Linked DNA regions of Homo sapiens. The protein of the gene in region 5 purifies or fractionates together with the protein of the main gene of each other region. This does not show direct contact. Each region holds a gene or a part of one and is shown on either strand. Other genes may lie near its edges. The genes, in order: ITGB4, MAGEC1, KRT2, UGGT1, LRRC31, PARP4 and IPO5.

Region 1 (3,646 bases), on a different chromosome or scaffold from region 5:
CCTGAGCCCACACGTGCCCCACCGCGTGCTAAGCACATCCTCCACCCTCACACGGGACTACAACTCACTGACCCGCTCAGAACACTCACACTCGACCACACTGCCCAGGGACTACTCCACCCTCACCTCCGTCTCCTCCCACGGTGAGTGACCTCAGCCAACCCTGCCTCTCCCACTAACCCTTCCTCTCTTCCAGCTCCTGGAGCCTCGGGCTTCTGTCTGCTGTCCCCACCGCCCATTCTCCAACATACACACACGCATGCACACATGCACGCACACACGTGCACACGCATGCACACATGTACACAGACATGCATGCGCACACGTACACACATGCATGCACACTCCCTGCTCCTCTCACTCTTGTTTTGTCCTGCCCTAGGCCTCCCTCCCATCTGGGAACACGGGAGGAGCAGGCTTCCGCTGTCCTGGGCCCTGGGGTCCCGGAGTCGGGCTCAGATGAAAGGGTTCCCCCCTTCCAGGGGCCCACGAGACTCTATAATCCTGGCTGGGAGGCCAGCAGCGCCCTCCTGGGGCCCAGGTAGTACAGGGGTGGCCATCCTGTCTCCACAGCTGTCCTGCTCCATCTGTCATCCAGCCACCATAGCAGCCGCCAGCTGTGCCCACTGCTTCCCCTCCATTCCATCCACAGGACCCCCGCCTGCCCACAGGCGCTAACCACCTGCCCTACCATCAGTGCTGATGCCTAACTCTGCCTCTGCCCTCCCAGGGGGCGGGGCTGGGGCTGGGGCAGGAGAGGGGCCAGGCCAGCTGAGCAGTTGAGGGGGTGGGGCTGGCAGACTCACGGGGCTCACTCTCTTTTGGCACAAGCAGGGCCTGCACCCTGCTGGAGGATGTGCGGTAGGTGCTGGGCAGCCTGGACAGGGTGTTGCAGGGTGAGTGAGTTGTCCAGCCAGCGGTCAGTGTAGACATGCCAGCTGAGGGAGGGAGGTCAGGGGGCAGCACTGTGACTCCCACTGAGACCCTAGCCCCTGCATCTCTGGCTGACTGCGGCCTCCTGTCCCCAGACTCTCGCCTGACTGCTGGTGTGCCCGACACGCCCACCCGCCTGGTGTTCTCTGCCCTGGGGCCCACATCTCTCAGAGTGAGCTGGCAGGAGCCGCGGTGCGAGCGGCCGCTGCAGGGCTACAGTGTGGAGTACCAGCTGCTGAACGGCGGTGAGGCATGGTGGCTGCCAGGCTGCGGGGTGCAGCCCTGCAAGGCCTGGCCCCAGTGTGACACATAGGGTACCTCAGCTGTGTCAGGAACCCACCCAAGTCCCTTGAGCGCTAAAGCCCCCATCCAGCCTGAGAGGGTCTCCCACCCCATTCTCCACCCCACTTCTTTGCCTCCCCTCTTCTGAGGTCTCACCCACCTCCCTGGGCCTCTCTCCTGGTCATTCTCTGCTAGGTTTTGCCTAACAAGGCCCCTTTGGGCTGGGATCCTAGGGCCTCTGCTGGCCTGAGATGCCTTTGGGGGAACAAGGAAGTGGCACTTCCCTGGGCAGGCACATTCAAAGCAGCATGACCAGGATGCAGGATGTTGCCTAAACATGAGTGGGATTACAGGCTCCACTCTTGTATAGTACACAATCTGAACAACCAGCCATACCATACTGTACCCAACCTGTACCCAAACCACAGCTAGTCCTGGGTGGGTGATAACTAGGTCTCGATGGCAGCTTAGGGACGAGGAGGATCAGGCCAGGGGTGGGAGTAACACTGCACTACTGTGTGCCCCCACCTGATCCCCCCAGGTGAGCTGCATCGGCTCAACATCCCCAACCCTGCCCAGACCTCGGTGGTGGTGGAAGACCTCCTGCCCAACCACTCCTACGTGTTCCGCGTGCGGGCCCAGAGCCAGGAAGGCTGGGGCCGAGAGCGTGAGGGTGTCATCACCATTGAATCCCAGGTGCACCCGCAGAGCCCACTGTGTCCCCTGCCAGGTGAGTTGCCTCCCCCAGCCCCAGAGCTGCCCCCATCATGCCCACCACCCACCCACAGGCTGATGCTCTTCCTCTACTGCCCCCAGGCTCCGCCTTCACTTTGAGCACTCCCAGTGCCCCAGGCCCGCTGGTGTTCACTGCCCTGAGCCCAGACTCGCTGCAGCTGAGCTGGGAGCGGCCACGGAGGCCCAATGGGGATATCGTCGGCTACCTGGTGACCTGTGAGATGGCCCAAGGAGGAGGTGCTGCCCACCCCGGGGGCAGGAGTGGCCAGGGGAGGGGTAAAGAGGGGGCCGCAGACGCTGAAGGCATCTTCCCTGCTCAGGGCCAGCCACCGCATTCCGGGTGGATGGAGACAGCCCCGAGAGCCGGCTGACCGTGCCGGGCCTCAGCGAGAACGTGCCCTACAAGTTCAAGGTGCAGGCCAGGACCACTGAGGGCTTCGGGCCAGAGCGCGAGGGCATCATCACCATAGAGTCCCAGGATGGAGGTAGGCACCTGTCCTTTCCTTCACCCCCACCCCTCCTCGGGCCGTGCCTCCTTCTGGCACCACCCTCTGACTGGCCTATCTGCCCACCCCAGGACCCTTCCCGCAGCTGGGCAGCCGTGCCGGGCTCTTCCAGCACCCGCTGCAAAGCGAGTACAGCAGCATCACCACCACCCACACCAGCGCCACCGAGCCCTTCCTAGTGGGTGAGCACTGAGGGCTAGGGGATCCCGGCTCTCCTGGGACAGGGAGCTAGCAGAGGGAGAAGGGCAGACCCCAAGCCAGGTCATCTAATGCCTCCTCCTCCACAGATGGGCTGACCCTGGGGGCCCAGCACCTGGAGGCAGGCGGCTCCCTCACCCGGCATGTGACCCAGGAGTTTGTGAGCCGGACACTGACCACCAGCGGAACCCTTAGCACCCACATGGACCAACAGTTCTTCCAAACTTGACCGCACCCTGCCCCACCCCCGCCACGTCCCACTAGGCGTCCTCCCGACTCCTCTCCCGGAGCCTCCTCAGCTACTCCATCCTTGCACCCCTGGGGGCCCAGCCCACCCGCATGCACAGAGCAGGGGCTAGGTGTCTCCTGGGAGGCATGAAGGGGGCAAGGTCCGTCCTCTGTGGGCCCAAACCTATTTGTAACCAAAGAGCTGGGAGCAGCACAAGGACCCAGCCTTTGTTCTGCACTTAATAAATGGTTTTGCTACTGCTAGGCCCTGCCTTGCCCATTCTTCTGGGGCCTGAGAGGTGCTCCCCTAGGGTAGGGGAGCGGTTCTGACATCCCCCATTCTCTGACACCCAAGCATACACCCACCTCTAGAGGAGGCAGGTACCACATTGGAGGCACAAGTTTATTGAGCACCCGGATATGGAAGATGGCACCGGGCACAGAGCCGTGGGACTGGCCTGCAGGCCCCGCACCCTCACCGTGTGCTGTCCTGGGGGTGCCTCACAAGCACAGCACCTTGGCTCCATCGGCTGCTTGAGAGAGGTAGAAGGTGGCAGTCCCGCCGTAGTGCTCCTGTAAGAGGCGGGCTGGGGGTGAGTGGCAGGGCCCCGGGAAGCTGCCGCTCCTGCCCGCCCAGGCCCTGGTGCCCGCCCACCTGGATGTGCCGCATGGCGTGGGGAGCAGCGGAGGCCTCCAGCAGTGTCACCGTGCAGCCACCGAAGCCACCGCCCGTCATGCGGCTGCCATAAACCCCAGGCACAGCA
Region 2 (4,897 bases), on a different chromosome or scaffold from region 5:
GATGTGGTTTTTAAAGTAAAATTTATACATATATGAGCTTATGTATGTGTTTATAACTACACATGGGTAATAATATACATATAGGTCTGCCACTTCCCTTTCCACTATTATAGATTCAATTGCACCCCCACTGAAGTCTTATGTTGAAATTAACATGTGGCATTATTTGGAGACGGGATTATCTCAGAGGCAAGGAAGTTAAAATGTGGTTATTAAAGAAGAGCTGGTACTATTCCTATGCAAACATCCTTTGTTTATTAATAAACATACTTTATTCACATTTATTTCCTTGTCACGAAAGTCTATTTTCTGTCCCAAGATACCCTGAGGATACGCCATTACACTTGTTCATCATGTCTCTTTAAATGCCCTTTGGCTGTGCCAGTTCACTGAGACTTCTCTTGATTTTGAAAACATTGACAGTTTGGAGGTGTATGGTCAGGTATTTTGTAAAATAGCCTTTGATTGGGAATTAAGTGATTATTTTTTATGATTTGATGTAGGTTACGTTTTCTCGGAAGATGAACAGAGAAGTGAAGTGCCATTCTTATCATATCATACCGACGGCACATAATACCAACACAATTTGTCACTGATGATGTTACTTTGATCACCATGGTGACCTAGTGTTTGTCAGTTTTCTTCAGGGTAAAGTCACATTACTTTTTTCCCTGTGTCATACTGTCATCTTGGGAAGGATAGGAAGACCCAGGACCAGCCAGTAGTCAGATGAGGCCTCTGAGGGAAAACTGCAGAAACCTCCTGCCCACAAAGAAGAGGATCCACAGAAACCAGCTCCCCACCTGTTGTCATCCCTGGGAGGCCCAGGGGCATGTTGACCCACAGTGCTGTCCCCTGACGTCTTAGCGTGTAGAAAGAGGAGAAGGCTGTGCTTAGGTGAGTCTCACTTCAGATCATGAGAGCGGAAGATCAGGAGGGGGGCCTTCTAGGCATCCCCAGGCTGATACAGAGGATGGACTGGTGAGCTACCCCACCACGGACACAGGAGGATCCCCAAAAACCTGCCCGTTTTCACTGCTAGGAGGCCTTGGGCAGGGCCATTAGGGAGAGACGCTAGCGTGCTCCAGTCCCTCTTGGGGGGTTCATGGAAATGGGAACCTTGATCTGAAAAACAGTCCCTGGAGAGAAGAGGGAGGGAGTGGAGGCCGTATCAGGAATAATAGGTTGAGGAAGACTGAGGGTCCCTCCCATGCCATTTCAGACGGAGGGCAGTGGAGCCCTACCTGGAGTCTGGGAGGCCATACCCCACTGTGGATGGATGTGATTCTACCTCTCTTGCACCTTGCAGGTCTCAAGGATGGGAGGGGCTTATTCGGAGGTGAAAGACTCAGATGCATAGAGGCAGGGAGCCCAGACAATGTCAGGAGTCCAGGAACAGCCTCTCAGGAAGGCAGGAAGGGAACACCCATGACTGGTAGTGCTGCCTGTCCTGTCCCTGTGCCTGCTGCCAGCCATGGAGGAGCCCATCAGGGTCCCCAGATTTACAAATTTCTGACTTCCATTTTGGGAGTCAGCCAGAGGGGAGATTTTCTCTGAGGAGGGCAGCTTCAGTTAAACAGAGGGAGTAGCCCCAGGGCTGGCCACTCAACAAGAAGAGAACTCTGTCGAAGGACAGTGACCTCCGAACACGGGGGAGGCACAGGCTGCACCCTGCCACTCCCTGCTGTCAGCCCTGGAAAAAGGTGGGGTGTGAGTGTCAAGGACTGGGGAGGTGGGAGGGAAGAGGTCAGCAGGGCTTAGGGAGTGAGCAGAAAGGTTTGGAGCACATCCTGGAGGTGGGAAGGAAGGGATGGAAAGGAGGCTGACAAGCGGGCGGCGGGGGGGGGGCGCCTTCCTCCTCTGAGAGGAGGCCCCGCCCCACGCTATCCGGGCTGTCAGCCCTGATCAACCCTGACAGAGTTCCCGGATGTGCTTTGCCGGATGTGCTTTCCCGGCGGCCATCTTGGGAGTCTGAAGGACCTGAGGCATTTTGTGACGAGGATCGTCTCAGGTCAGCGGAGGGAGGAGACTTATAGACCTATCCAGTCTTCAAGGTGAGGGCCCCGAGGGAGAAGTGAGGGACAACCCCACCACAGAGAGAAGCAGCCCTGGCCTGCCCTATCCCTGCGGTGGCACTTGTAGGTGGCGGAAACGAAGATGGTAGCCGAGGGCTGAGGGACGTGTCCTCACGGCAGAAGAAGGGAGGAAATGCCGGCCCTCTAGAGAATAAATAGGAAGGCATTGAGGAGGACCGGGGGAACCCCCACCTCAGAGGACAGATTCCCAGAGATTCCCACCCTGCTCCTCAAATCAGCCCCCATAGAGCTCCCCAGGTGGCTGAGGCTGAGCGGCCACCCTCTCACTGCTGGGTGAGGGGTGTAGGGGAGGGGGAGGAGGAGGCCTTGTTCTGGGGGTCCCATGGCAAGTCAGCATGGGGAGCTGCCTCCAGTTGGCAGAGGGAAGATTCCCAGGCCCTGCTGGGAACAAGAGTGAGGACTGAGGGGTCACATGTGCGTCAGAACAGACGTGAGGCCACAGGGACCGCCCCCGTGGTAGAGTGCTGGGAGGTGGCTGCCACCTCACTACCTCCCACTGCTCTCAGTGATGTGGAGTTTTCCTGAGGTTTTTCCTCAGGCCAGCAGAGTGGTGGGGGCCTGGCCCTGTCTGAGAAAATGTGACAATGCTAATTGAATTCTGAGGGGGTCACGAACCTCAGAATTGTGGGACTCTGGGAGTCTGGCCAGCCCCAGCTGCCGTCTTAGCTGGAGGGGCTCCCTCCCTTCCTCTTGCAGGTGCTCCAGAAAGCAGGAGTTGAAGACCTGGGTGTGAGGGACACATACATCCTAAAAGCACCACAGCAGAGGAGGCCCAGGCAGTGCCAGGAGTCAAGGTGAGTGCACGACCTGACTGTGTACCAAGGGCCCTACCCCCAGAAACAGGGCAGACCTGGCAGCACCCGGCCTGTAGCCACCCACTGTCATTCCTGGTGCCTCAGGCTCTGCCTGCCAGCTGTGCCCCGAGGTGCTTTCTCGCGTCCTTCTACAGGTTCCCAGAAGACAAACCCCCTAGGAAGACAGGCGACCTGTGAGGCCCTAGAGCACCACCTTAAGAGAAGAAGAGCTGTAAGCCGGCCTTTGTCAGAGCCATCATGGGTGAGTTTCTCAGCTGAGGCCACTGGCACTGTCCCTCTCTCCCTCAGTCCTGTGGGATCCCATCATACCTATTCGTGTTCACACGTTTACCTGCTGCTCCTGAACAATATTCATCATGCCTCTCTTTCTAAACCTTCCACGCCCCAGCTTTGAGCAAGGCTTCCAGAAGGCAATTTTCATACTGGAGTTGGTAGATGCAGAGGATCCCCCAGATGAGGAAGAGGAGGAAGCTTCCTCCATTTTCTCTTCCTCTTTCCACTTTTTATTCCCCTCGTCCTCCTCCTGTTTTTCTTTCTCATCCTCATCCTCCTCTCTGCTTCTGCGTTCTCCAGGGGACAAGGATATGCCTACTGCTGGGATGCCGAGTCTTCTCCAGAGTTCCTCTGAGAGTCCTCAGAGTTGTCCTGAGGGGGAGGACTCCCAGTCTCCTCTCCAGATTCCCCAGAGTTCTCCTGAGAGCGACGACACCCTGTATCCTCTCCAGAGTCCTCAGAGTCGTTCTGAGGGGGAGGACTCCTCGGATCCTCTCCAGAGACCTCCTGAGGGGAAGGACTCCCAGTCTCCTCTCCAGATTCCCCAGAGTTCTCCTGAGGGCGACGACACCCAGTCTCCTCTCCAGAATTCTCAGAGTTCTCCTGAGGGGAAGGACTCCCTGTCTCCTCTAGAGATTTCTCAGAGCCCTCCTGAGGGTGAGGATGTCCAGTCTCCTCTGCAGAATCCTGCGAGTTCCTTCTTCTCCTCTGCTTTATTGAGTATTTTCCAGAGTTCCCCTGAGAGTACTCAAAGTCCTTTTGAGGGTTTTCCCCAGTCTGTTCTCCAGATTCCTGTGAGCGCCGCCTCCTCCTCCACTTTAGTGAGTATTTTCCAGAGTTCCCCTGAGAGTACTCAAAGTCCTTTTGAGGGTTTTCCCCAGTCTCCACTCCAGATTCCTGTGAGCCGCTCCTTCTCCTCCACTTTATTGAGTATTTTCCAGAGTTCCCCTGAGAGAACTCAGAGTACTTTTGAGGGTTTTGCCCAGTCTCCTCTCCAGATTCCTGTGAGCCCCTCCTCCTCCTCCACTTTACTGAGTCTTTTCCAGAGTTTCTCTGAGAGAACTCAGAGTACTTTTGAGGGTTTTGCCCAGTCTTCTCTCCAGATTCCTGTGAGCCCCTCCTTCTCCTCCACTTTAGTGAGTCTTTTCCAGAGTTCCCCTGAGAGAACTCAGAGTACTTTTGAGGGTTTTCCCCAGTCTCCTCTCCAGATTCCTGTGAGCTCCTCCTCCTCCTCCACTTTATTGAGTCTTTTCCAGAGTTCCCCTGAGAGAACTCACAGTACTTTTGAGGGTTTTCCCCAGTCTCTTCTCCAGATTCCTATGACCTCCTCCTTCTCCTCTACTTTATTGAGTATTTTCCAGAGTTCTCCTGAGAGTGCTCAAAGTACTTTTGAGGGTTTTCCCCAGTCTCCTCTCCAGATTCCTGGGAGCCCCTCCTTCTCCTCCACTTTACTGAGTCTTTTCCAGAGTTCCCCTGAGAGAACTCACAGTACTTTTGAGGGTTTTCCCCAGTCTCCTCTCCAGATTCCTATGACCTCCTCCTTCTCCTCTACTTTATTGAGTATTTTACAGAGTTCTCCTGAGAGTGCTCAAAGTGCTTTTGAGGGTTTTCCCCAGTCTCCTCTCCAGATTCCTGTGAGCTCCTCTTTCTCCTACACTTTATTGAGTCTTTTCCAGAGTTCCCCTGAGAGAACTCACAGTACTTTTGAGGGTT
Region 3 (3,293 bases), on a different chromosome or scaffold from region 5:
AAAGTTGCTGTTGGTTGTGCTGACAAAGGTTTGAGGTTGTAGGCCAAAAGCAAGGGTTCTCCTGCTGGGTCCTGCAGGGCCTTTGGTGTATATTCTGGGGAAATTTCGGAGAGGTGAGATGGACAGACGGGATGAGAGAGCTGAGGACTGTGGAAACCCACAAAGAACATCGTATCCTGTTGTAGAAACACACAGTGTCTCAAGCAGGAGAGAGGGGCTGGTTGGCAAAGCTTGGTCATCTCGAGGCTCTGATGGTCCTGAGGGCTGTGAGCCATGGACGTAGGCATGAAGTCCCTGGCAGAGGTGTATGGTAAACTGCACGACAAAAGAAGTCCCATGGGGACAGGGATCAGGTTGGGGAGCCTGGGATTTTAGAGAGGAGCCAGCAGGGACTGAGTAGAGGGGAGTGGCAGAGAGAGGAAGAGGCCTGTACAGGGAACCATACACCAGAGGCCTCAACCTTTCTTGCAGGACGTGGACAATGCCTACATGATAAAGGTGGAGTTGCAGTCCAAGGTGGACCTGCTGAACCAGGAAATTGAGTTTCTGAAAGTTCTCTATGATGCGGTAAGGAGGCTGCTCCGGGACAGTCCCTTACTTCCCACCCTTCTCACCAAATGAAAGTCCTTTCTGCTTGGTGAAAAAGTGGCAGAAGTGGGGTTTATGGACCAGCTGACTTCAATCTGCCATCATTCCAGGCCACTGGGGGGGCTTTCATAGCATAGGTCTTGTGGGTGAGGAATTTTCTCCTCCGATGTTATGGGAATAAGGTTCAGGAAACACCAGGACAGCTTCCCCTCCCTCCATTCCCCAGATGTCCATTTCCCCTGGGGAAGAGACAAGCCCTGTGCCCATTCCTGTGCCTACTGTACTTCAGAGGTCAAAATGCATTTGTCTCCTATCCCCCTCCCCAACCCAAGGGTGCACAGATGATTTCTGAAACAGGAAGTCCATTTAAGGTATTTGCCATGGACAAGCTTCTGTCTGGGGGCACTTACCATAACTGGCTTAAGTGCTGAATGTTAACTAGGAGGCTCAGAAATACAGGTGCCTCTCACTACAATTCTCAGGACAACCTTGGGAGAGGCCCAGGAGTAGACGGTTACATGATTTTCATCCCACCTAGTGTATGCTTAGTCTGAGGGTCTGCGTTTCCCTTATGCTGGGAGACAGAGGCCTCCTGTCTGCCTGTAGCTATGGCAGGATGTCATGACCAGACCTTCCTGTGTGTTGTAGGAGATATCCCAGATACATCAGAGTGTCACTGACACCAACGTCATCCTCTCCATGGACAACAGCCGCAACCTGGACTTGGATAGCATCATCGCCGAGGTCAAGGCCCAGTATGAGGAGATCGCCCAGAGGAGCAAGGAAGAAGCGGAGGCCCTGTACCACAGCAAGGCAAGTAGAGGGAATGTAGGAAGAGCCACAGCTCCCTGCCATGAGCTGGGTTGCACCCCCAGCTGGAAAGTGTACAGTAAGGTTATTGGTTTTTTGTTTAATGGTAGTTGGGCACCATTCCCAAGAAAGGATGTTGAGAATGGCACCAAGTCCTTTTGGGCATGTGAGACAGTCCCTACCTCTCATGAATGCAGCCATGACATTTAGCTGGGTTGACCCTCCCTGGACCAGTAACCAGCTCTCCTTCACTCCAGTCAGTCTGGAATGTGAGCCAGGCTGGAACTTCCTTGCAAACTGTCCTCTTCTCCCCATATCAGTATGAGGAGCTCCAGGTGACTGTCGGGAGACATGGAGACAGCCTGAAAGAGATCAAGATAGAGATCAGCGAGCTGAACCGCGTGATCCAGAGGCTGCAGGGGGAGATCGCACATGTGAAGAAGCAGGTGAGGCCCAGCCCTGTCCAGCGAGGGGCGGGAGGTTGTCTCTGGGTGTGCGTGAGAGTGTGGTTGTGTGTGAGTGTGCATGTGAGAGATGAGAGACACTGAGATATTGCACTCTAGCATGTATCGATCCCAAATTCCCCAGCTTAACATAATTTATGGCTTATTATAACAATTCTTAGAGTGCTCTAATAGACATTCCAAAGTAAGGATTATCGAAGGGAAAGAATTGTGCTCACTTGTTTATATGAGGAAAAGGGAGTCATAACAAATAGAGCAAACGTTAGTTTGATTGATTTGCTGCAGATTGCCGATGGAGCTTCCCGTTTGTGCTCAGCACAGGCCCTGAGCACCAGCCGACTGGTTTCATAGAGGGGCAGTGAGTATTGAGGGCAGCTGGCCTGGGGCTGGACGTTAGCTTTGGAATAGAAAAGGTAGAGGCAGAGAGTGGATTCCATCAGCAGCAGAAGCTTTGCCAAGCAGACCATTTCAAATGTTTTCATTTCCATCTGTAAAATGGGATCATGATTCAGGCCCTGTGATGTGAGGATCAAAGGGCACTATGGGGAAAGCCAAAGGGTGTCATCAACGGTGACATGGGAAGAAGATGTGCCAGAGACAGCGGCAAGTCTTAGCACAGTTGTTTGCGACTAAACTCCAGAGGGGACCTAACACTCCCAGGGCCAGTGGTTCTGGCTTCCTGCACTTCGAACACCTCTGCTCTCTGTCCGCCTCCGTCAGGCAGAATCCATTCTCTGTCCTTCTGTCATAGTGTAAGAATGTGCAAGATGCCATCGCAGATGCCGAGCAGCGTGGGGAGCATGCCCTCAAGGATGCCAGGAACAAGTTGAATGACCTGGAGGAGGCCCTGCAGCAGGCCAAGGAGGACTTGGCGCGGCTGCTGCGTGACTACCAGGAGCTGATGAACGTGAAGCTGGCCCTAGATGTGGAGATCGCCACCTACCGCAAACTGCTGGAGGGCGAGGAGTGCAGGTGAGGGCACTGGGAAGGGAGAAGGGGACCCTGGCCCTTCCTCTCATCTCTCCCAGAGCCAGGGCTGGAGGCAAAGACAGGGAAAGCAGAGAATGGGGCAGGCCCTCCTGACAACTGAGAACTGACATTCTCTGTGTTCCCCAAGCAGAAACTCAGGACATAAAGCATGATTGGAGAGTTACACATTTATCAACATGAAATGATGCATAAGGCACATTAAATTAAACTAAGCAGTAAGTTAAACATCCTGGTCTTTTCTGAAAGAGAAAACAAAATCATGGGAAAACAGGTTAGTCCTAGACAGTCTGAAACTTTGGTCTCTAGGTCCATAGGGTGAGTGGCTTCTGTGCCCTCCACCGGGTGACCCAGAATGGGGGAGATGATGTCTCGGAATGTGCTGACTGGTGGGGACGTGCTGACCGGAGCAGGTGCCAGCCCCAGTTCTTTGCAGGTTTCTGG
Region 4 (4,216 bases), on a different chromosome or scaffold from region 5:
TGCTGGGATTACAGGCGTGAGCCACCGCACCTGGTCTGTGCTAGAGTTTTTAATGTGTAGTTTTGGTTTTTTAAGAGTTGCATTGATTTGTTTACTGTGTTATTCACATTATAGTTGATTGATATTTCAGAAATAGAAGTAACTGTTCCTCAGAAATAACATTTTGGTGTTTTGAAGAGAGCTAACTGGACTTTTCTTCTTGTCCTAGGGCTACTTTCAGCTGAAAGCCAACCCAGGAGCTTGGATCCTCAGACTTAGGAAGGGACGCTCTGAAGATATTTATAGAATTTACAGGTAGGAGTAAGTGATGCAGTTACATTATCCCAGAACTTTTAGAAATGAGCATTAGCTCTAATTGAATACTACCCTGGCAGTTAGCCAGGCAACATGAATTTAATTTGCAGTTGTATGTGATGAAACAGTGGTTTTTCCAGGAAATTAAATATGGAAGAATTGTTAGAATAGAATTAGATAATAAGAGGTATAGATGCTAATGAGTATAGTCAGGCTTTATTCTTTAATTATTCCTTTGTGCTAACAATATCCCAGAATCAAATCATTCTATCAGTGTGATGCGGCTCATAGATAGGCAGATGAGAAACTTGAAGAAAGGAGAAAAGAAAGAAAGAACAGCCACACTTTTCTGCCCAGAGAGTGTATGTGTTGACCCTGAGTGATTTGCAAATGCACAGTACATGGAAGCTTTGGTCTTGAAGCTGTGCTGTTAGTGCTGGTATTCCTTGGTCTGTGGTGGCATAGTAAGAACATTCCCTCTATAGCCAGCTTTTACCTTAAGGTTTACTGCACATATTTATTAGTTTAAAAATAATTATGTTGCCTTTAAAAAAGTTTGATATAAATTCTGCTTAACACAATTTAAATTAGTTTTAAACTGTGTGAAGAGGCTTCCCGTCAGGTTGTGTAGGGGATGATTTCCATTAGGGCACATTTGAAGCACTCTGTAGTATGTCCTTGCCTTAATTAGCTCCGTAGCGACACACATGAAACAGTGGATTAGTGCCTGGTTCTTACCCAGGAAATAGAAGAATTCTGTATTATAATAACACCATTGTAAACAGTAGAAGGTTTTTTCCCACATAACATTTTCCTCAGATAAGGTTTTACAAAATTTGGGATGCACTTCCGAACTCCTTCCCTTTTGGATGCCCTGGCCCTTGCCAGCCCTCCCCTTCCCAGGAGCATGGTGCCCCCTCTTCCTAGCTGTTCAGGGCCCCACCCCCATTAGAATCTTCCTTTGCCTGAGAACCCTACTCTCTGCTAGATGACAGCAAATGCAGTGAATTCATGTTGTAATTATGACTTTCTGCACCTTGAAATTTGGTGACTGGAAATTTTAGGCATTGCTGTTGATTAGTAGGGAAACATACATTTAATTTTTCTTCCTCTGCTCCTGTCTGCCTGCAAATAGAATTTGTTACAGTTTTTCTGGTAGCGTATAGACACCAGGTTGAGTACAGGGCCTATTGTTGACTGATTGTTGCCTCCGGCAGAAAGAGCGAGCAGATTTCCTTTACAACACTATTCCAGTTAAAGAGTAGTGGCCGGGAGTGATGGGTGATGGCTCACGCCTGTAATCCCAACACTTTGGGAGGCCGAGGAGGGTGGATCACTTAAGGTCAGGAGTTTGAGACCAGCCTAGCCACTATGGTGAAACCCTGTCTCTACTAAAATACAAAAATTAGCCAGGCGTGGTGGTGGGTGCCTGTAAACTCAGCTACCTGAAGGCTGAAGCAGGAGAATCACTTGAACCCCGGAGGTGGAGGTTGCATTGAGCCGAGATTGCTCTACTGCACTCCAGGGCAACAGAGCAAAACTCTGTCTCAAAAAAAAAAAAAAAAAAAAAAAAGAGCGGAGGCAGTGTGGTTCCAATAATGGTTCAGGGGGCCTGTTCCCTGCATTCCTTTATCGAAGGCTCTGTGCTTGGCTCAGAGCTTGTGAACACAGGCGGTTGTTTAGTACTCACCATGTGGTTACCACACATGGGTGCCTCTCACTACGTGATGGGTAATTTGCAAGAGGACTCACAAAGGAGGTTTGGGCATGCACCTTATATAAAGAGAGGTTTCAACACGTGCTTCTGTGCAGCTCGAAGGAGCTTAAGGAGCAAGAAGATAGCTGGATCTGGAAAACTCCTTTATGAGAAGGATGATGGACTCAGATGCTCTGAGAGCATTTGCTGCCTTTTGAGAATTGTGCCTTGTAATATTGATCTTTCTTTTCTCGCAAAGCCACGATGGCACTGATTCTCCCCCTGATGCTGATGAGGTGGTTATCGTCCTCAACAACTTCAAAAGCAAAATTATTAAAGTGAAGGTGAGTTTGGTAAAAGTAGTGGCATTCTGTTATTGGACAGCTGTCATTTAAAAATATGTATCTTGGAACCAGCCCAAGAGTCTCTTTGGAATTTGCTATGGCAATTATAGGGATACTGCTTTAAGGCAAAATGTCTTTGTAACTGTGAGTTTGTGGCTTCCCTCAACTGAAAGATTGTACCTTTTGGGTAATCTCGGTGTGCAGAACATGTCCCATCTTATATAAAATATTCTCATAGATGCTATGTTGTTTATATAGCCACAATTCATAGTGTTGTTGATGATTCTTTTCTCAATATTGGGGGAACTGGCAATGGAAATTTTCAACAATAATAAAATGATAGTCCTATTTAATTTCTTTTGACTTGTACTTTCCGTTCTCTGAATGTTGAAGCTCTTAGTGCCTTAAATTCAAGTACAGTATATTCTTGAAGAAAGAATCATTACACACAGTGAAACCTAAAATAGGCCATCCATTGTTGAGAAGAAAAATGGTCACTGTACTGCCAAGAAGAAACCCCTGTTTGTGCTAGTGAATCCTGAAAACTGGTCATAACATGAAATACCTCCCTCCCAACAGCTAGAGCCCCCAGCAGCCACACTCTTCCCTGGAACTAGCTGTTGACTCATTGAATCGTGCTTCTGGTTTCACTGCACAGTTGAGTTTGCGGCTCTTTGCCTATGTTGCAAGCTGAAAATGGGGTTCATCTAATTAAAAGAGGTTGCTGTCTCCTCACATAAGGTTATGATGTGAATGTCCTGGCGAAGATACTTCTATTGAATCCTTCTAGACTCTGGGTGGGGTTGTGCCTGTTTGTGAGAGAATTGATTGATAATTCCCTATTGATGACAGGCTCACAGTGTATATCCAGTGAGAGGCAGTTTTATGCCTGTGAGACATACTGGGAGTAAGGTTTATCACATTTGATTGCAGGTTCAGAAGAAGGCAGATATGGTGAACGAAGACTTGCTGAGTGATGGAACGAGTGAGAATGAATCTGGATTTTGGGATTCCTTCAAATGGTAAGTTGACATTGTAAGAGTTATGTTTTTAAGGAAAAACTGAGATATAAGCACCATCCATCCCTCCTTTTTGCATCTTGTGATTCTGTCTGGGCCTTTCACATTCTACTTTGTGCAGCTACATCTCACACTTATATTTGGCATAGATGAGTATTTTCCACTCGATTGATCCAAAAGAGGTTCATGTCTCCTAGTGGGGAAGTTACTTCTGCTCCATACTTTGTGACTCTCATTGCCTGTACCTGCTCTTTGGAAATTTGACTGCTCCCTGCTCAGTTTACTTCCCGTTGTGTAAGTTGCATTCTGGTGCAGCCTGTGTTCAGTCTCTTCCTAAAACAACACTGTCGGAGAGTGAACATTCTTTTTGTAGGTTGGTTTTGTCAGTCTTGTGGTCTCTCCAGGGTGTGAGGGAAGCTTCATAACCACTCCTGCTGCAGCTCACCCGCTAGGGAAGGATGGGAAGCGCAGTCTCTTTCCTCTTACTTTCAAAGGCCGTGTGTCTGTATGAGTGTTTCAAGTGGTCTTTTTTTTACCCTTATTGTTATAGGGGCTTTACAGGACAGAAGACTGAGGAAGTGAAGCAAGATAAAGATGACATAATTAATATTTTCTCCGTTGCATCTGGTCATCTCTACGAAAGATTTCTTCGGTCAGTCTTGTTGATTATTTCATTATATATGATGAATGAATTGGTCAGTGTTCTTATTTAGAGAGGAAAGGTTTTGTGGGATTCTGCTCATTATACTCCTGTGTCTTTGAAGCACTCTGAGCATTGTGACTGGCTTGCCATTTATCATTGGATTTGTTTTGATCCCGCCGTCTCTGTGAAGTTGAACTATGTAGTGAGTGCTTCTGGATAT
Region 5 (4,216 bases):
ATTTATTACATTTTAAAAAATCTAGGTAGGGGAAATGTAGGCCATGGGTATACTCTTTATAGTTTACTGTATGAAAAAATAAATGCCATTAATTATTTTTAAAATGTATATAAGCTAGTGATTAACAAATTTTTAATGTTTCTATTAGAAAAAATATAAAAGTGACAATTGCTAAAACCACATATAGTAATACTTGTTTTTTGTTGCTGTTGTTGTTTTTGTTTTTTTGAGATGGAGTCTGCTCTCTTGCCCAGGCTGGAGTGCAATGGCGCAATCTCAGCTCACTGCAACCTCCATCTCCCGGGTTCAAGTGATCCTCCTGCCTCAGCCTCTCGAGTAGCTGGGATTACAGGCACCTGCCACCATGCCCAGCTAATTTGTGTACTTTTAGTAGAGACAGGGTTTCACCATGTTGGCCAGGCTGGTCTCGAACTCCTGACCTCAGGTGATCCACCTGCCTTGTCCTCTCAAAGTGCTGGGATTACAGGCGTGAGCCACCATGCCTGGCCTGTAATACTTGTTATTGAGTAAAAATTCAAAGAAGGAAAATATACCCTGATAAAATGTAAAAGTATAAATTTGACCTGAGAAAAAAACTGTCAGTAAAAATTAAGAAAAAATATACAATGGCTGAAGACATGGTGAATAAAATTTGATGCAGACAAAAATAAAAAAGACCGAAATGAAGAAGCAAATTTTAATTATAAACATTAAATAAAATAACTTAAATATATTTAATGGTGTCTAATTCAGAGAAATAAATAAATAAAAATCAAAAGCTTATTTTTTAGAAGACACAACATCAATAAACCCCTTGCAGTAGTCAGAATTCTAAATAGCCACCTTAAGATTTCCATTGTATCCCCAGGACTGAATGTGGTAGATTTTGCTCCCAGAATTAGCTTAGGCTATATGGCACACCTGACTTTAAGAAAGGGAGATTATCCATATGGAGTCAACCTAATCACATGAGCCCTTTAAAAGCAGAGAGAATTTCCTCCTACTGCTGGCAGAAGAGGAAGGAAGTCACAGAAGTCAGAGAGATTTAAAGTGTGAGAGGCACGGACAATCCACTCCTGTCTTGAAAATGAGGGGCCATGTATCAAGGAATGTGGCTGGCCTCTAGTAGCTGACAGCAGCCCCCAGCTGAGAGCTAGCAAGAAAACGGGACCCTCAGTCCTAAAGCTGCAAGGTCCTCGACTCTGTCAACAAGAATGAGCTTGAAAGTGGATTTATTCCTAGAGCCTTCAGATGAGAACTCAGCCAGGCTGACACCTTGATTTTAGTGTTGTAATACCCTACACAGAGAACCGACACAAGCTGTGTCAGACTTCTTACCTACAGAACTGTGAGCCGGGTGAGGGATGAGAAATTACTTAATGATGCATTATTCATTTGGGTGATGGTTACATCAGCACCCCAGACTTCACCACTACAATATACGCATGGAACAAAACTGCACTGGTGCCCCTCACATTTATATAAGCTTTTAAAAAGAACTGTGAACAAATACATGGATATTGTTTTAATCCACAAATTAACATGTTACACAGCAACAGAAAACTAATACCTTTGGTCAGACTAGCCAAGAATAAAGAGATAGAAACACAAATTATCAATATCAGGAATGAGACAGGTGGTATCACTATGGGCAGTAAAAGGATAACAAGGAAACAACTTTATTTCCATAAATTCAACAACCTAGATGAAATGGGCCAATTTCTTAAAAGACACTATCAGAACTTGCTTAAGAAGAAATAGACAACTGGAATAGTCCTAGCTCTATTTTTTTTCTATCTCTATTTTTTAAATTGAATTCGTAATTTAAAATATCCCACAAAGAAAATTCCAAGTTTAGATGGCTTCAGTGGTGAATTCTGTGAAACAGTTGAGCAATAAATAATACCAATTTTACACAATCTTTCTGGAAAATAAAAGAGGAAGGAACACTTTCCAACTCATTGTATGAGGCTACCTATACCCTCATAACAAAGCCAGACAAAGACATTATAAGAAAACCAGTAGACTATTATCCCCTTGTGAACATAGGCACAAATATCCTCAACAGAATATTAGCAAATAACATCCAACGCTATATAAACAAGATAATACATAATGACCATGACCAGGCTGATTTAACATTAAAAAATCAGCTAATATTATTAATTATTATCATTCATTATTATTATGAATATTAATGAACTATAGTTTTTTTAAATGCTCATCTCAATAGATGCAGAAAAATATAATTTGACAAAATTCGTTATAAGAACTCTTAGCAAATTAGGATTCCTTAACCTGATAAAGGGTAGCTACAAAAAAACCTATAGCTAACATCATACTTAATGGTGAAAAATGGAATGCTTTTCCCCTTAGCTTAGGGGACTAAGACTGGAAGCAAGGCAAGAATGCTCTCATCTCATTCAACATCTATTGGAAATCTAGCCAGCTAAATAACCAAGAAAAAGAAAGAAAAGATACACAGAGATAAAGAAATAAATCTGTCTCTAGGCCGGGCACAGTGGCTCACGCCTGTAATCCCAGCACTTTGGGAGGCTGAGGCAGGCAGATCACGAGGTCAGGAGATCGAGACTATCCTGACCAACATGGTGAAACCCCGTCTGTATTAAAAACACAAAAACTAGCTGGGAGTGGTGGCACATGCCTGTAGTCCCAGCTACTCAGCAGGCTGAGGCAGGAGAATCGCTTGAACCCAGGAGTCGGAAGTTGTGGTGAGCCGAGATCATGCCACTGCACTCCAGCCTGGTGACAGAATGAGACTCCATCTCAAAAAAAAAAAAAAAAAACAAAACAAAACCTGTCTCTAATCATAGATGATATGATTATCTATATAGAAAATCCTACAGGATCTACCAAAAATATCCTACAGCTAACAGATGAGTTTAGCAAGTTTGCAGTAAAATGTCAATATACAAAAATCAATTATATATCCACGTAACATTGGGAATCTAAAATTAAACAGTATCTTTTATAAGAGAACAAAAATTAAACACTCAGATATAAATTTAACAAAATATAAAAACTAGAAAACACCAGTGAAAGAAATCAAAGAGTACTTAAATACAGAGATAGACTGTGTTCATGGATTGGAATACTCAATATTGTTAAGATGTCATTTCTCCCTGAATTGATCTATAAATTCAATGTAATCCCAATAAAATTTCCAGATGGATTTTTAAAATAGATATTGACAATCTGATGCTAGCTTTAAATGGAAATGCTAAGTAACTAGAATAACCAAAACAATTTTGAAAAAGAAACAAAGAATACTTATACTACTTCATTTCAAGACTTACTATAAAGTTTCAGCAATCAAGACAGCGTGATATTGGTAAAATAAGAGACACAGAGATCAATAGAACAGAACTGAGAGACCAGAAGTAGGCCATCACAAATATGGCCAATTGATTTTTCACAAAAATATAAAGGCAAATCAATGGAGAATGGATAGTCTTTTCAGTTAATGGCACTCAAATAATTGGACAGTAATATGCAAAAATATTAACCTCTACCCATACCTCATACCTTATATAAAAATTAACTCAAAATAGGTAATAGGTCAAAATATAAAATGCAAATACAAAGCTTTAAGACAAAAATATGGAAAAAATCTTTGAGAACTTAGATTTGCAAAACGCTCTAAGATGCAACACAAAAAAACTCTATTCATCAAATTAACAAATTGATAAATCTTTATCAAAACTGAAAGCTTTGATCTGCAAAAAAACACTATCAAGAGAATGAAAAAGCCAGTGGGACAGACCCAGAGAAAATAATAGCAAATTATATTTCTGATAAAGGACTTACTTGTATTCAGAAAAATCTAAAAAACTCTCCAAACTCATCAATAAGAAAACAAACAATCCAATTTTTTAAATCAGGCAAAAGATTTAGAACAGACATTTCACCAAAGGAGCTAAGAAATGAAAATACACACATAAAAAGATGTTTGACATCATTGGTCATTAGGGAAATGCGAATTAAAATCACAATGTTTTGTCCCCATCTTCTAATTACAATCATTTTTGCTATAACACTTGTTTTGAAAACACAAGTTTATTTCAATGAGATTGAAATGTCAGGAAACAATCTGAGTATAATGCAAATTTCTTGTTTGCATTATGCACACAATTTGTCCACAGGAAACACTAGGTGAACATATAAAACTGTCCCCAGCTGAATTGAGCTGCATATA
Region 6 (4,216 bases), on a different chromosome or scaffold from region 5:
ATGAACCAATCAGCAGGATGTGGGTGGGGCCACATAAGGGAATAAAAGCAGGCTGCCCGAGCTAGCAGTGGCAACCTGCTGGGGTCCTCTTCCACGCTGTGGAAGCTTTGTTTTTCACTCCTTGCAGTAAATTTTGTTGCTGCTCACTGTTTGGGTCCGCACTGCCTTTAAATCGCGGAGGTCTGCAGCTTCACTCCTGAAGCCAGCGACACCACGAACCCACCGGTAGGAGTAAACAACTCCGGACAAACTCTGGATGCGCCGCCTTAAAGAACTGTAACGCTCACTGCGAGGGTCTGCGGCTTCATACTTGATGTCAGTGAGACCAAGGAAGGAACAAACTTCGGACGCGCCGCCTTTAAGAACTGTAGCACTCACCACGAGGGTCCAGGCAGCTTCGTTTTTGAAGTCAGTGAGACCAAGAACCCACAAATTCCAGACACAGCACTAGGTAGGGTGGGGCCTCTGGCCTGTAGGAGTGGGAGGTGAAAGGGCAGGCAAAGGGGAAATGGCGGAGCCCAATCGCGGTGCAGGGCGGTGGGCTTTCAGCAACTCAGCTTAGTCCCAAGACGCGTGGGCCGCGGCAGAGAACCTGACCTGCCTGCCCAAGCTAACACAGGACCCGGAACCGCGATCCTCAAACTAATACAGGACTTGGAAACTGCTGTCGCCAAATGGCAGCTTACTTTGCGGGGAGCCTGTTAGACGTGACTCCTTGTTTTTAAAAATTGACAAATACCAGTCTGGGCAACATAGCGAAACCCTGTCTTTACTAAAAATGAAAAATATTAGCCGGGCGTGGTGGCGCGGGCCTGTAATCCCAGCTACTCGGGAGGCTGAGGCAGGAGAATTGCTTGAACCCAGCGTTAGCACAAACTGCAACATTTTGTAAGCTGCCCGCTATTTTGCAGACTTTGGGCAAAGTGAAACATTTCTGGGGGGTTTAGGCGGTGAGAAACATCCTTCCTAACCACTTGACCGCAAGGCCAACAGAGGCTTATCTGAAGAAACTTCCCTCTCATGACTTCTTGGGCAAACGTCCAAGGAACACCATGATGACATCCACCTGAATAAGGGCCAGAACCCTTATTGTACAAATCAATACAAATCATGGGAACATCTTATCGATATCTTGCAGGGCAACAAGCCATGCTGCCCAGACCCCTCCCGCCCATACCTATAAGTACCCTTAGCCTGTAAGACTTAGCAGTGGGCTGTGGCATTAGGCTGGTCCCCTACTTCTGTAGGTTTTGTGCTGCACATAAAGCCGCATTTGCTGTCAAGCTCGCGCTCTCTAGCTCTGTCTCCTCTCTCTTTCTTTCTCCTCTGTGTGTGTGTGTGTGTCTTTCTTTAACCCTCACCTTCTCTTCCCGGAAGGCAGAGATTGCAGTGGGCAGAGATTACAGTGAGCTGAGATCTGCTACTGCACTCCAGCCTGGGTGACAGAGTGAGACCCTGACTCAAAAAAAAAAAAAAAAAAGCGGGGGTGTGCCAGGTGCGGTGGCTCATGCCTGTAATCCCACAATTTTGGGAGGCCAAGGTGGGCAGATCACTTGAGGTCAGGAGTTCAAGACCAGCCTGGCCAACATGGTAAAACCCCCGACTCTACTAAAAATACAAAAGTTAGCCAGGTGTCATGGTGGGCGCCTGTAATCTCAGCTACTTGGGAGACCGAGGCAGGAGAATCAATTGAATCCAGGAGGTGGAGGTTGCAGTAAGCCAAAATTGCAATAGTGCACTCCAGCGTGGGTGACAGAGCAAGATTGTCTCAAAAAAAAAATTTTACAAAATGGAAATTAAACACAATTTTTCACCATGTATTAATTTATTGTTAAATACACATTTCGATGCAAAATTGAGAATGTGTTGTACAGTAAATTAATTAAATTAACCCAGGCTGGGTGTGGTGGCTCACACCTGTAATCACAGCACTTTGGGAGGCTGGGTTTGAGCCCAGCCTGGTCAACATGGTGAAACCTTTGTCTCTACTAAAAATATAAAAAGTAGCCACGTGTGGTGGTGCGCGCATGTAGTCCCAGCTACTCGGGAGGCTGAGGCAGGGGAATCGCTTGAACCAGGGAGGCGGAGGTTGCAGTGAGCTGAGATCGCACCACTGCACTCCAGCTTGGGTGACAGAGTGAGATTCCGTCTCCAAAAAAAAAAAAAAAAAAAAAAAGAACCTAAATGCAGAATATATATGTGTATACACACACATACATATTCCATTTAAACATAGTTGTATATTTTTATTATCAGCTGTTCAGTTTTTCCCCAGAATGGCCTAATAGAAGTCCACATAAAGAGTCTTTTTGAATGCATAGAATTATATATTAAAGAAACCCATGGTTTCACTATCAAATAATGTTAATTTCTAATTTAGAAATAAATGGTTCCATGTTCTGGAGTCACACACTTGATCTGTAACTTAAATCTGTCATGTTTTTATTAAGATGTATATCATGAGCCTGTACAAAGGGATTTTTGGTGGTGTAATATCAACCATAAAAGCTAGAAACGATTCTTAAACCAACACACATATTGCAAGCTAGGATATTATTCAATTTTTGCAATGTTCTATTGATAACATGATTGCAATATCTTTCTTAAGATAATGCCCAATTTTCCCACAGTTTGCTTGTATAATAATTCTAAATTCACTGTCATATTGACTTAAGAGAGGGTCCTTAAAAACTTTTTTTCCTACAGGATGGTGATGGGAATCTTTGCAAATTGTATCTTCTGTTTGAAAGTGAAGTACTTACCTCAGCAGCAGAAGAAAAAGCTACAAACTGACATTAAGGAAAATGGCGGAAAGTTTTCCTTTTCGTTAAATCCTCAGGTATTTCCAAGTGTCATAAACTACAGTGTGATAAAACATTGCGCATTCAGGGAACAGGGTCATGGTTAGAAGAGGAAGCAGAGATTAGCAGCAGGAGAGAGTGAGTGAGCTACTCGAAGTTCATCAGGAGAGACTGACATGGCCCATTGGGAGGCTGGGCTCCTAGAGGCAGAGGTGGCCCAGCCCTGTCCCCTCCCTGTTCCCTGAACTGCAGGACAATCCTACATGTCCTGTGAAGCAGGATATTACTAGAGCACAGCCAAATATGAAAATAGAATTTCAGACCAGCCATATCTATTCTTGAAGGAGAAAAGTCATAGTGCACAGGATTTGCAAAAAGCGCACTGTCGTCACTCACCAGTATGTCAACGCTGGGGTGATATACTGGTAAGCCAGGTTCCTGGGTGTAGAAAGAAATACATGCAGTGCAGACTCATCTTCGCAGTGTAGCTTGTGCTGTTTGTTTTGTTCATTTAAAGGCTGCAGGAATTTACCTTCTGCCTCTTGAACTTGTAAGCCTGGCAGTTCAGAATAATAGGATTTTACAGCTGGATGAAATCTTAGAAATAATTCAGTTTAACCTCCTCTTTTTTAAACCACCTCACTGTAAAAATAGAAATCCAAAGGCTCTAGGTGCCAGGCTGGCCTGCCCCTGTCCTCTGCTGTTCCCTCTGTTGACGAATTGATGAGCTGACTCACCCTGCCCCTCCCTGGACCTCAGCCCTGGGGCTTGGCCATTGTGAGCCTCATCTGTTCTGTGAAGCGTGTTCAACTCCAGCTGAATACCAGAAATGCAATGTCCCTGTTTACTTCCAATTCAGGTAGAATTGTATATACTTCCCTTATACAGCTTCCCACACTGAGCTGTCTCACCATCTCTGGACAGATGAGTAATTCGTGCCTGCTCTCCCTTCTCAGTTTGTCTTCTGTGTGAACTGCCAACATGGTCTCTCCTTTTTAGAAAGTCACATACTGTGAGTGCAACTTTGTGGAAGTCAATGTACATAAACATGTGAAATGTGCATCCCAGCTACTGTAGATAATGAGGCAGCTGTATATGTAATGTTGAGGAACAATCACCAAGATAATTTCAGTGGAAAAGCCAGCACGGAAGAGGCTGAGGAGCACGCTGCCATGTATCTACGCATAGTGTAGCTCTAGCAGGATTCGCGAGGAGCAAGTGACAGCAGGTGCCTCTGCAGAGAGGAACTGGGGACAACAGTGGGGATGAAGTTAATACGTCGTCATTATTTTATTTTTTAGATATTCTACAATGTGAATTTACTATTTATTAAAAAATAAATAAAATTATAAGCGGGCATGTTGGCTCATGCCTGTAAACTCAGCTGAGATGGGAGAATCACTTGAGGCTGAGAG
Region 7 (4,216 bases), on a different chromosome or scaffold from region 5:
AGACTGCTGACAGTAGGGAGACTGAGGGGACTGTAAGCTGTAGGGAGGGGTGGTAAGGACGAGGCGTGTTGCTCACCTTTGTATCAGCCAGCATATAGTTTAATGCCTGGCATGTGAGAAACACCCAGTACCTATCTGAAGAGCGGGTGGACTTTTACATATAAAATCATTAAGAGGTGGGGCATGTGTCCATGCATGCTCAATAGATAAATAGGTAGGTGGATGACAGATATCAGGGGATAAGAATCACTTTCTAGGTTGCAGGGGTGGTGAATGGAACCAGATTCTCTAGGTAATTTGCAGATGATAAAGTCTGTGTAAACACAGTAATAGGAGAAGAGGTGTTTTAAATATACTCAGCCACTTATGAGAAAATTATAACAGCTAAGAGAAAAGGATGTTTTGTTTCTTGGGTTTTAATAAATGTTTAATGAATGGAGTGGCAGGCAATAGGGATACAGAGTCAGATAAAATACATTTCTGTCTTCAAAAAATTTGTAACTGGGAGTTGATGAAGTGTTTGGTTTTGTTTAGGTGATTAGTTTCATTTAGATGATTCAGATGCTAAGAAAGAAAACCATTATCACTTACTGAAAGTAGAAAGAAATACCCAAGGTTCTGGTCTTTGTGTTTTGCCTCACCTGCTGTCCATATCCCAGTGTAGTGAGTTCACAGGGATTTCATTATTGATTCTGAACCTTTTAAGTACATAACCTTTAGAAATGCTCTTACTGCTTAAAGTACTGTGAACATATCAATAAAACATTGTTTCTATGAAATAAGGAAATGGCTTTCTTTATCACGTTTACCCATTGTTTTTTAATCTATTTTAATTTTAAAATTTTTCCCCAGATCTCTTACATGATCTCAGCATGGGCCAGAATGTGCAAAATCCTTGGAAAAGAATTTCAGCAATACCTTCCAGTGGTTATGGGGCCTTTAATGAAGACGGCTTCAATTAAGCCCGAAGTAGCCCTTTTAGATAGTAGGTGTCTTTAGAAGGAGCTATCGGTTATAATAGTTCTCTCTTTGTTATTATTTTTCATATGCATTTGTTTTCTTCTCCGTTAATAGCCCAAGACATGGAGAATATGAGTGATGATGATGGTTGGGAATTTGTGAACCTTGGAGATCAGCAAAGCTTTGGTATTAAAACTGCAGGACTAGAAGAAAAATCAACTGCTTGCCAGATGTTGGTAAGAGAGCACTGTTTTTACTAAACTTTTATTTTACATCTTATATACATTTCATATGAGTGCTTTTAATAGCTGCTAAAGAAATTACTTTGGAGAGCCAGTAATATGTTCCTTAAAAAGTAAAGTTTTCTTTCCATTTTAAAGAAATCGTATGGATAAACCTTTCATTATCAGTGCTGTTTTAAATAGCAAAAAACAACAAATAGCCCAAATTCCTGTTAGTGGGAAGATGAATTACTGTGCCTTGGAGTAATATACAGCCATTACAAAAAGTTTATAAGCTACATGAGGGAAGGATTTTTGTTGGTTTTGTTCTTAGTCTATAGTAGGTGGCCATGGAATGTTTTTTAAACAAATGAACAGAAGTGTGTTCATGCTATTTAATGTGAAACAAAACTTGTATGATTTCAATTGTGTAAAAAAACAGATATGGCAGGAAAATCAAAATGTTCGGTTATTATCCCTTATGGTGTTTGTGGTGTGCATATGCATGTTTAGTTCCTAGTTTTCTTTTTGTTTTCTTTATGAGCATGCGTTTTAAAGTGAAGGATAATCCTTTTTTTTTTTTTTTTTTGAGGTGGAGTCTCTCTTTTTCACCCAGGCTGGAGTGCAGTGGCACGATCTCGACTCACTGCAACCTCCACCTCTGGCGTTCAGTTGATTCTCCTGCCTCAGCCTCCCGAGTAGCTGGGATTACAGGCGCCTGCCACCACAGCTGGCTACTTTTTGTATTTTTAGTAGAGATGAGGTTTCACCATTTTGGCCAGGCTGGTTTCCAACTCCTGACCTCAGGTGATCCGCCTGCCATGACCTGGGATTACAGGCATGAGCCACTGCACCTGGCCAATACTTACTTTTAAAGTTAGATTTTAGAAATTAATGTATTTCTTATTGTCATCTTCAATACTTAGTATCTATAAATTATAAACACTTTGGATTTTTGTGGGTTTTTTCTCTCAACTGGAAAGCAAATACAAATAATAACATCTTTAAACAGAATTAATCTTTAGATGTAGTAGAAGAGAATGAAACAATTGGGTTTTTGGGGTTTTTTTTGTTTGTTTGTTTGTTTGTTTTGCTTTTTGAAACAGAGTCTTACTCTGTCGCTCAGGCTGGAGTACAGTGGCTTGATCTCAGCTCACTGCAGCCTCCGTCTCCTGGGTTCAAGTGATTCTCCTGCCTTAACCTCCCGAGTAGCTAGGATTACAGGTGCACGCCACCATGCCTGGCTAATTTTTTGTATCTTTAGTAGAGACGGGTTTTCACCATGTTGGCCAGGCTGGTCTTGAACTCCTGACCTCGTGATCCGTCTAACTCTGTCAGCCAGGCTGGAGTATAGTGGTGCCATCCCGGCTCACTGCCACCTCCACCTCCTGGGTTCAAGCGATTCTCCTGCCTCAGCCTCCCAAGTACCTGGCATTACAGGTGCCCGCCACCATGCCTGGCTAATTTTTGTATTTTTAGTAGAGACGGGGTTTCACTGTGTTGGCCAGGCTGGTCTCGAACTCCTGACCTCGTGATCTACCAGCCTCAGCCTCCCAAAGTGCTGGGATTACAAGCATGAGCCACCGTGCCCAGCCATGATTTTTTAAAAATACAAAATAACAGAAGCGTTTTCTACAGATTTACAAAGTAAATGCTTCAATTAACTGATGGTTTCAGGGTTTTTTGTATCTTTTAGAATGATTTTTCCTCAATTAAGTGATACATTTTGTTTGATGTATTGCTGAAACTTGCTGAATGGAATACGAATGATTCCAGCCTTTGAAGGGACAATATATACGACAATAATTTCCTTTTTTTTTTTCTTTTTGTCACTCACCAATACTACAATCATTTCATGACCCTTCTTTTAAGACTCTTTTTAGTTGGAAGACTAATTTGACAGTTCTACATGCAACTTTAAATGTAGTTCTAGTCAAAATACAACCTCCTGTGGTCCTTATGATTTTGCTGTTTGTTAATATTAATGCTTGAAGACTAACATGAATCTTTATTTCCTCCCAATACTTTGGTTACAGGTTTGCTATGCTAAGGAGTTAAAGGAAGGCTTTGTGGAGTACACCGAACAGGTTGTCAAACTGATGGTCCCTTTACTGAAATTTTATTTCCACGATGATATCCTACAACTTCTGAATACAAAACATGTCTAGATTTAGTAAACTTGTAGTTTCTTGGAGTATTAGACAGTGTTGACTGAAGTAGACTTCACCATGATTGTTTGTATTTGCACTAAGTGTACTCTTAGGTGATAAACTCGGTTCTCTGCATGTGCCTTTGTTTCCACTTGTGCCAAAACATGAAAAAGAAAACGTGACCTATCCTATGTTTGTCAGCTTTCTGTGGCCCACTTAAGGATTTAAGGATAATTAGCAAATGATTACAATTATATATAGTTGCTACTTTCCCCAAATATCTTTTGGTAAACGTTAAGAAAATAAGACTTTTATTTTAAGAGATGGTGTCTCACTCTGTCACCTAGGCTGGAGTGCAGTGGCGTGATCAGGACGCACTGAAACCACAACTTCCCAAGTAGCTGGGACCCAGGTGCACAACACCAAGCCCAGCTAGATTTGATTTTTTTTTTTTTTTTTTTTTTTTTTAAGAGATAAGGTCTGCCTATGTTGCCCAGGCTGGTCTCAAACTCCTGGGCTCAAGCAGTCCTCCTGCCTTGGCCCCACAAAGTTATGGGATTACACACCTGAGCACTGTGCCTGGCAAGACCTGTCTTAATAGATTAGAGAACCACTGATAGATGGTCAGCTTTCTGTAGCAGTGAGAACCCTACATTTCAAATGTGGATAGCACCTTTGCGGGGAAACATCACTTGGCACATCTGCATTCTTTTTTGACACAGGGTCTCACTCTGTTGCCCAGGCTAGAGTGCATGGCACGATCTTAGCTCACTGCAACCTCCACCTCCCAAGTTCAAGCGATTCTTCTGCCTCAGCCTCCTGAGCAGCTGGGATCACAGACATGCGCTACCATGCCCAGCTAATTTTTTGTATTTTTTGTTTGTT

Evidence for each region.
Region 1: the proteins of LRRC31 (region 5) and ITGB4 purify together in Homo sapiens (affinity purification with mass spectrometry, with the first as the bait; one large-scale study listed by BioGRID). This does not show direct contact.
Region 2: the proteins of LRRC31 (region 5) and MAGEC1 purify together in Homo sapiens (affinity purification with mass spectrometry, with the first as the bait; one large-scale study listed by BioGRID). This does not show direct contact.
Region 3: the proteins of LRRC31 (region 5) and KRT2 purify together in Homo sapiens (affinity purification with mass spectrometry, with the first as the bait; one large-scale study listed by BioGRID). This does not show direct contact.
Region 4: the proteins of LRRC31 (region 5) and UGGT1 purify together in Homo sapiens (affinity purification with mass spectrometry, with the first as the bait; one large-scale study listed by BioGRID). This does not show direct contact.
Region 6: the proteins of LRRC31 (region 5) and PARP4 purify together in Homo sapiens (affinity purification with mass spectrometry, with the first as the bait; one large-scale study listed by BioGRID). This does not show direct contact.
Region 7: the proteins of LRRC31 (region 5) and IPO5 purify together in Homo sapiens (affinity purification with mass spectrometry, with the first as the bait; one large-scale study listed by BioGRID). This does not show direct contact.

Annotation. Positions count from the first base shown.
Region 1 is NC_000017.11:75,754,673-75,758,318, forward strand, and holds the end of ITGB4 (integrin beta-4 isoform 1 precursor), read left to right. Parts: coding exon 1-143; intron 144-382; coding exon of another isoform or gene 383-541; intron 542-1,028; coding exon 1,029-1,178; intron 1,179-1,756; coding exon 1,757-1,945; intron 1,946-2,031; coding exon 2,032-2,187; intron 2,188-2,270; coding exon 2,271-2,435; intron 2,436-2,527; coding exon 2,528-2,638; coding exon of another isoform or gene 2,639-2,649; exon of another isoform or gene 2,650-2,743; coding exon 2,744-2,883; 3' UTR 2,884-3,146; downstream 3,147-3,646. Other genes in the region: GALK1 (galactokinase), read right to left, coding at 3,384-3,455, 3,538-3,646. UniProt on the Homo sapiens protein: Integrin alpha-6/beta-4 is a receptor for laminin. Plays a critical structural role in the hemidesmosome of epithelial cells. Is required for the regulation of keratinocyte polarity and motility.
Region 2 is NC_000023.11:141,901,925-141,906,821, forward strand, and holds the start of MAGEC1 (melanoma-associated antigen C1), read left to right. Parts: upstream 1-1,969; 5' UTR 1,970-2,054; intron 2,055-2,792; 5' UTR 2,793-2,890; intron 2,891-3,045; 5' UTR 3,046-3,148; coding exon 3,149-3,152; intron 3,153-3,484; coding exon 3,485-4,897.
Region 3 is NC_000012.12:52,646,281-52,649,573, reverse strand, and holds part of KRT2 (keratin, type II cytoskeletal 2 epidermal), read left to right. Parts: intron 1-471; coding exon 472-567; intron 568-1,236; coding exon 1,237-1,401; intron 1,402-1,718; coding exon 1,719-1,844; intron 1,845-2,613; coding exon 2,614-2,834; intron 2,835-3,293.
Region 4 is NC_000002.12:128,174,565-128,178,780, forward strand, and holds part of UGGT1 (UDP-glucose:glycoprotein glucosyltransferase 1 precursor), read left to right. Parts: intron 1-208; coding exon 209-294; intron 295-2,249; coding exon 2,250-2,334; intron 2,335-3,267; coding exon 3,268-3,356; intron 3,357-3,903; coding exon 3,904-4,005; intron 4,006-4,216. UniProt on the Homo sapiens protein: Recognizes glycoproteins with minor folding defects. Reglucosylates single N-glycans near the misfolded part of the protein, thus providing quality control for protein folding in the endoplasmic reticulum.
Region 5 is NC_000003.12:169,842,142-169,846,357, forward strand, and holds part of LRRC31 (leucine-rich repeat-containing protein 31), read right to left. Parts: intron 1-4,216.
Region 6 is NC_000013.11:24,502,268-24,506,483, reverse strand, and holds part of PARP4 (protein mono-ADP-ribosyltransferase PARP4), read left to right. Parts: intron 1-2,706; 5' UTR 2,707-2,707; coding exon 2,708-2,839; intron 2,840-3,197; exon of another isoform or gene 3,198-3,329; intron 3,330-4,216. UniProt on the Homo sapiens protein: Mono-ADP-ribosyltransferase that mediates mono-ADP-ribosylation of target proteins.
Region 7 is NC_000013.11:98,009,029-98,013,244, forward strand, and holds part of IPO5 (importin-5), read left to right. Parts: intron 1-852; coding exon 853-985; intron 986-1,074; coding exon 1,075-1,196; intron 1,197-3,217; coding exon 3,218-3,314; intron 3,315-4,216. UniProt on the Homo sapiens protein: Functions in nuclear protein import as nuclear transport receptor. Serves as receptor for nuclear localization signals (NLS) in cargo substrates.